Homo sapiens: one gene and its partner. The protein of the gene in region 2 purifies or fractionates together with the protein of the main gene of each other region. This does not show direct contact. Each region holds a gene or a part of one and is shown on either strand. Other genes may lie near its edges.

Region 1 (3,928 bases), about 15 Mb from region 2:
TGAGGCAGGAGAATGGCGTGAACCTGGGAGGCGGTGCTTGCAGTGAGCTGAGATCGCGCCACTGCACTCCAGACTGGGAGAAACAGCGAGACTCTGTCTCAAAAAAAAAAAGTAAGTAAACATCCAGAAAGAAACTAGCAGTATAGGAAAATAGTGGAATAAACTTTTTGAAAGTCCTATCTATCAACAGAAGGCTTAATGTAAATAACTGATATTAAAATAGGCAAAGTGCCTAAAAAAGACATTTCTCCAAAGAAGACAAAAAAAATGGCCAACAGGCATATGACATGGTCCTCAACATCACTAATCATTAGGGAAATACAAATCAAAATCACAATAAGGTATCATCTCACACCTACTAATATTAAGATGGCTATTGTCAAAAAGACAATAGATAGTAAGTGTGGGTGAGGATGTGGAGAAAAGGCAACCCTTATACACTGTTGGTGGGAATGTAAATTGGTAGAGCCATAAAAAGAACAATATGAAGTTGCTTCAAAAAATCAAAAATAAAACCACCATATGAGCTAGCAACCTCTCTTCTGTATATATACCTGAAGAAAATAAAACCAGAGCCTTTAAGAGGTATCTTCACTCCCATGTTAATTGAAGCATTATTCACAATAGCCAAGATATGACAACAACCTGAGTGTCCATTGATGAATAACTGGATATATATTCCACATACATTGCATATGTAGTGCATATACATTCCATATATAGTGCATATATATTATATATATTGCATATATAGTGCATATATTATATATATTGCATATATAGGGCATTTATATTATATATTGCATATGTAGTGCATATATATTATATATAGTGCATATATACTATATAGTGCATATATAGTGTATATACATTATATATTGCATATATAGTGCATATATATGCACAATGGAATATTATTTAGCTTTAAAAAAGAAGATCTTGCTATTTGTGATAGCATGGATGAATCTGGGGGACATTGTGCTAAGTAAAATAATTCAGACACGGAAATACAAATGCAATTTGCTTTCTCTTATACATAGAATAAGAAAATAAACAAGCATCATGTTGCACAGCTTAAATACATATTATTAAAAATGAAAACAAAGAATTTTTTTTAAAGGAATGTATAAAAGAAAAAAGATATGAGATTAAGAACATGAGTGAACATTCACTCAGAAACCAGCAGGATAGAAGAATGGTCGAATGAATTTTTTGAAAGTCCCACCTAATAGTAGAAGGATAGTTTAGCAGACTTCTGGATCTTATGCTTTGGTTTCAACAGTTACTCTCCAAAGTTCGTTTTAAATTTATTTCTATCCTAGGGATGGACAAAGTCTTAGCATGGGAATTATTTAAAAAGTCTCCCAACGTGGCATTCAAATTAATAATTCAGCTTGAACTATAGTTCTAGTCAGTTCAGTTCAGTCCAACAACCATTTATTGCAACTATTTATTGGTTGTTGCCACAGCAGATTCAGAAATAAATGACAACAGACCCTGACCTCAGGAATGTATGGTCTAGTCTAATAGAATACATGAGAGAGAGGTAGAAATGGAAAGAAAAGGAAACCCTACAATATCAAGCAAGTGCCTTTGAAGAAGGCATAAAGTGCACTGAGAATTCTAAGACAACACGTCCTTTTGTGGAGAGTGTCACTTGAGATAAATCTGCAGGAAAAATTGGAAAATGGATGGATGGAGACGCACTTAGAGAAGGAAGAGCAGGAGGAATGGCAGAAGTGGTAATGCATGGTACACACTCAGGGAACTTCAGCAGCTCATCTGGTGAGAGCTTTCAAGAACAGGCAGGGGAGAGAGGGTGGGAAAGTGCTTGAGGCCACAGGCAATGGCCTTGAAGACCATGGAGAAGAGACTGTATTAATGTGAGGAGAAAGTAGCTGAAGACTTCATTTATTTATTTGTTTGTTTACTTATTTTTATTTTTATTTTGAGGCAGGGTCTCCCTTTGTCGCCCATCCAGGCTGGAGTGCAATGGTGCAATCTCGGCTCGCTGCTATCTCCGCCTCCTGGGTTCAAGTGATTCTCCTGCCTCATCCTCCCAAGTATAGCCAGGATTATAGGGGTCTACCACCACACACGGCTAATTTTTGTATTTTTAGTAGAGGCGGGGTTTCACCATGCTGGCCAGGCTGGTCTGGAACTCCTCACCTCAGGTGATCCGCCCACCTCGGCCTCCCAAAGTGCTGGGATTACAGGCATGAGCTGCCGTGCCCAGCCTGCAGCTGAAGACTTTAGATCCCATGATCAAGGCTGTTGATCAACTCATTCCTCTTTAAAAACATAATGTTTCTGCAATAGGAGATAGCTTTTAGGAAAAAATGACAAAACTAATTGATAAGGACACATATTTTCTTTTCTTTTTTTTTTTTTTTGAGACGGAGTCTCGCTCTGTCGCCCAGGCCGGACTGCGGACTGCAGTGGCGCAATCTCGGCTCACTGCAAGCTCCGCTTCCCGGGTTCCCGCCATTCTCCTGCCTCAGCCTCCCGAGTAGCTGGGACTACAGGCGCCCGCCACCGCGCCCGGCTAATTTTTTTTTGTATTTTTAGTAGAGACGGGGTCTCACCTTGTTAGCCAGGATGGTCTCGATCTCCTGACCTCATGATCCACCCGCCTCGGCCTCCCAAAGTGCTGGGATTACAGGCGTGAGCCACCGCGCCCGGCCGGACACATATTTTCTACATACTCTGTGAGTATCTGATGCTTACAGTGAAGAAACCTGTCTGGAGCAAAATTATTATCTTTCATTATTAAGTTTTATTCAAATACATTCTCCCTGACAAGAGTTTATTTCTGAAGATCACACTGAAATGTGCAAATTCTCCTGATTATAATAATTCCAAACCTCTAGGCAGACATCCATGAACAACAACAACAAAAATTACCTTTGATATAAATGTTCTACACTACAATTATGTCTCAGTCCAAACTTACCCAACCTCAAGCTCCAAAACTTGTATCTGTTCTCTAAAGGAAAAAGAAACTCATATTTCATATTTTTAAAATTTTGCAGGTAGCCTCAAGTCATTGATTGATAAAATAATCAACCTGTCTTTTGTCCAACAATATGACAGATGTCCATTTTACAATAAATGTTCACTTGAATTAACCCCTCTATTATATCACTGTGCTCTAGGTTTATATGTAAACAGAAACTTTAGTGATTATGTCTCAACAGCAACACTCTCATAACAAACTCTACAAATGAGTAATATTTCAAAGTAAATTGTTTAACTCCAACAAAAGCAGGAAATAACAGAAAAATATTCAACCAGAGAAGAACAACTAAAATAAGTGTAAATTATATGATAAACATAAACTACTTCCCTCTAAAACAGAAAAGGGAATAATAGAGGAAATTAGCAGTTTATCTGCCCTCTGGTGGCAATGAAATCAACTGCAGCATTTACTAAAGTAACGCATAATAAAATGTCCCTGTTATGAAATCAGATGTTGTTCCTGTGCCAACATGTCTGTAATAAAGATCCTGATTGTTGCATGACAAACGTCAAGACTGCTGGACTTTTCCCCCCATACTGAATTTTTATATAGACTATTTTACAAATAAAGTTGTATACTTTTTTCTGTTTCACCTTGCTTTTTTTATATATTCAGTAAGCTAACCATTTAATTACAATATTTTTTTCATAAAACTACATGTAAATGATGTCCAGGAAAGAAGCTACTTCTGTTTATAAAAGTCTTCGAAAATTTGGCAAGGAATTTAAAACCATTCTTTTAAAAATCAATCCTATCAATATATGGGTTTCTAGAGTATATTTCCCATCAGAAATATTCAACTAGCTTAAAATACCAGTACACTGATGTTGAACATTTTAAGTATTTTATATTTCCCACAGCAAGGGCTTTTAATTATATGGCCAATCTTACTTTGGGATGAATTTCATC
Region 2 (3,928 bases):
ATAGCTAGGACCACAGACAGGCATGATAATGCCTGGTTAAGTTTTTGTATTTTTGGTAGAGATGGGATTTCCTATGTTACCCAGGCTCAAACTCCGGAGCTCAAGGGATCCACCTGCCTTGGCCTACCAAAGTTCTGGGATTACAGGCATGAGTCACTGCATACACACTCCTAATTATTTTTAATATAGTGAAATTAACACATGGAAAAAGGCACATGGAAGAAATTATGGTAAGAATACGGTGTAAGTTCCTATGATTCGTCTCTCAGTGATGTTTCAGGAAACACACTGACTTCCTCCAGCATCACATTTTGGCAACATAGGGGAAATGTTGACTACAAGGGATGCTATTTGGAGACTCAATTCCCAAGATTTTAACTGGGTGCTGGTTAAATTGACCCAGTCTGTATAGCACACACCAAACTTCCGGTCTTGTAAAGAAAGCAGGTATACAGAAACCCCACACTTTGTACAACCAGTTAATTATAGATGCTACCCTTATCAGTTAGGAAGGGGTGAGAAATTCAACTTCTCAGATACCAGCCAGGCTCCAACTTTGAAAACAGGCGCATCTACGGGTGGCAGTCTATTGTGTTAACTCCTTTCTACACAGCCATTAGCCATTCTGTGTGCATGACAGAACTAAATACTAGGAGTAAAGACATACATTCCAAGGATGTAGATTTATACCTAAGAAATTAACTGCGACCTGTGAGAGATTAGTAAGGTACGCTTTATCCCTAAAAAATAAGACCAACTCTTTTAGAAACGATATAATTTCAGTGAAATTTAAAATTATTGACTTATCTACCAAATTTGGATAAAGATTTGAAAGGTATATTTTTTAAATGACAAAACCGTAAATGAAACAATTTTCTATTTTAATATAAGCTTTTCTGAAGCTTTCTTTTTCTAGTGAAATTAAAAGGAACTAGATGCCAGGTTGCACTACCTTCCCCTGATGCCAACCCTGATCCTCTGTTTGCTGTGCAGGCACTCAAGGTTTACCAAGGCTAGAGCTTCCGTGTTGTGCTTTTCCTTACTTCTCCTTCATGCCAATTTGCATTACAAAGTGAACCACTCCTGTCGATGGTCTTCAAGGTGTTTCTCTGTAAATTCTTACAACGTATAGTTGATCAAATTTAGACAAAAATTTTATGTGACTACTCCTTATTAACACACTTAGTAGTCTTGGAATACAAGTTTTCTTCCAGTGTAGAAATAGCTCAGTCTAGAAAAAATGTCTCCATTTTGCCCACTTCCGTGTCAGAGGGCCACCCCTATCATTTTGATACAAATCTGATGCATATTAACACGGACCAAAAATTTAAAATTTTTCTTGTGAGGTTCTAGGTTTTCCTTAGAATAAAGTTATTTTTCCTTTCAGATAATTTTCCTAGAGGTGAGAGTTGTGCAGGGCATTGTATTAAGTCCAGGACCAGTATTACTGTGTCATGCTCAAGACCACGCGGCAGCTCAGCAGTACTCTCCCAACAGTTTTCATACACCCCATCTTTAGGTGCTGTTACCACAAATGTTTCTTTTGATCACGTCTAGTAGAAGAATAAAAGATTTCTTCAACCACAGAAATAAATGGAGAAACCATTCTCACTGCAGTCATCTCCTAGAAAGGGAACTGCCAGGCAGTGTTCTTCACTGTTGAGTTTTATATATTCTGCCAAGCTGGGCAATACACAGAAACAGCATATAAAAACAGTGTATAAAATAAAAATAAGCAGTAAATTACCATATGACAGACCTCAGTGCAAAACAAACATTGACTACCTTTTCTCTTTGAACATAGAATAGCTCTAGCCCAGTAAGACAGACCACGTGAGTCACTCAGGGTAACAGAAACACAAAGCTGAACAACCCAGGTCATCGTTCACTTATTCTAGCTTTGCTCTTTTAAATGCTCAATGCTGAAAATGTGATTATTACCTCTGGAGGTGCATAGGTGCCAAATCCCAATACGGGCATGAAGTGACCATCATTTAGCTCTACACGCTGATATTTGGGATCCATTGCTTGCCACTTCTTTCACTAAGCAGATCCTGTTTCCTTCAGCAACATCTGGCATTTATATTCAGGGGTTATGTAAAACATGGGCAGGCAGTGCTGCACTGCTCCCTGGGGCTAATCAATGGCATGTAGGAGGAAGCAAGTGATGGTGTATTACACAGGCTGTGAGGAAAATTGAATCCAGTTCACTCGTTTCTTATCAAAGAGAATTTTTACATACATTATTATATAGTCAAAATATTTTTTTCTAAAGTGAAATTTTCTATTCAGAATCAATCAATCTCTCTCTCTGTCTGTCTGATAAACTCATCCAACAGGTTTATAGAATGATTGGTGATCATGTTAGACTATAAAATACCTCCAGCTACAAATCTTGTTTTTGTTCATGCCATGATGATATCCCATCTTTATCTTCTGTCATTTGAAATAATCAACCATCTTACATCTTTCTCTCAGACAGTATTCAAAAGAATGACCAGTGAGCATTTTTTTTTAGTGGTGACCCTCAATAAAGAAATTAAACAAAACCAAAGAAAATTTCTCTTTTTACGTTTTTCACCAACAAATTAATTTTGTTTCTTCTTTAATTGTAGTAGGAATATTCATTCCTGATGAAGGTGTGGTCCTGATGATGTGGCAATCCTGCAAAGGTTCAAAGGGAAAAGAAAACAGAAATTCTGACATGATGTTTATTGGAGTATTAATTATTAACAATGTTTGGACTTTGGACATCATTTGCAACATGCAAACAGTTCTTTAATAGTGTTTGTATCTTCCATCAGTTTTATAAGAAACCAGCAAAAGTAACTTCCCAAAAAGCTGATAACTATTTTATATAATTTGTGATCTTATTAAATGTTATAAAGAAAAAAGTAATTAAAATAAATTGGTGAATAATCCTCACATGGCATAATTTTACTTGTTTCTCCCATTGGAGGGCAGACTAGAACACGATGATTAGGCCGGGGGCAGTGGCTCACGCCTGTAACCCCAGCACTTTGGAAGGCCAAGGCGGTAGGTTTACTTGAGGTCAGGAGTTTGAGACCAATCAAGTGAAATCTTGTCTCTACGAAAAATACAAAAATTAGTCTGGAGTGGTAGTGGATACCTGTAATCCCAGTTACTCAGGAGGCTGAGGCAAGACAATTGCTTAAACTCAGGAGGCAGAGGTTGCAGTGAGCCAAGATTGGGTCACTGCACTCCAGCCTGGGCGACAGAGCAAGACTGTCTCAAAAAAAAAAAAAAAAACAAAAAACAAAAAACGAAGATGATTAACATCTGTGAAGAATCCATACCAATATCTGTTGTTGTCTGACATTTTAAGAATAGCCATTCTGACTGGTGTAAGATGATATCTCTATGTGCTTTTGATTTGCAACACCCTCTTTTCTTCTATTCACTTCTTCCTAAAAGGAACAATAAAAGAAAATAATTAGGTAAATTACTATACATTGAAGCAATGGAATATAATAGAGCCATTTAAAAATTTTCACACAGAGTGTCATCAGCAGGATGGTAGATTAGAAAGCTCTCAAATCTCCCATGGAATTATCAAAAAACAATCTGAAATGAACTAAAATAAACTCATTTATTTATAGAGTGGCTCAGTAGAGATGCAGGGTGACTATAGATGCACAGATGCCACTGGCAAGAGATTAGGGGGAAGAGACATACAATAGGCCATCTATGGCACTTAGGAGAAGCTGAGCTGTGAATTTTTGACATGATAAGGTATTCAAAACCATTGGGTATTTGGAGAAATCAAATAGGGCACACAGAGTCTAGGCAGATGCACGTTCAGAAAAGAACTGAGAAGACCTTAAGTTTTCATGTAGGGCTGATGTCGAGACTAAGAATATGCCAAGCATATTAGCTGATCATTGTCATGACACAGAATATATATAGA

What was found.
Region 1: the proteins of AKR1C4 (region 2) and PLXDC2 purify together in Homo sapiens (affinity purification with mass spectrometry; 3 studies listed by BioGRID and IntAct, with this or other methods). This does not show direct contact.

What each region holds. Positions count from the first base shown.
Region 1 is NC_000010.11:19,819,106-19,823,033, reverse strand, and holds part of PLXDC2 (plexin domain-containing protein 2 isoform 1 precursor), read right to left. Parts: intron 1-3,928. UniProt on the Homo sapiens protein: May play a role in tumor angiogenesis.
Region 2 is NC_000010.11:5,194,965-5,198,892, reverse strand, and holds the start of AKR1C4 (aldo-keto reductase family 1 member C4), read right to left. Parts: upstream 2,057-3,928; 5' UTR 2,026-2,056; coding exon 1,942-2,025; intron 1-1,941. UniProt on the Homo sapiens protein: Cytosolic aldo-keto reductase that catalyzes the NADH and NADPH-dependent reduction of ketosteroids to hydroxysteroids. Liver specific enzyme that acts as an NAD(P)(H)-dependent 3-, 17- and 20-ketosteroid reductase on the steroid nucleus and side chain.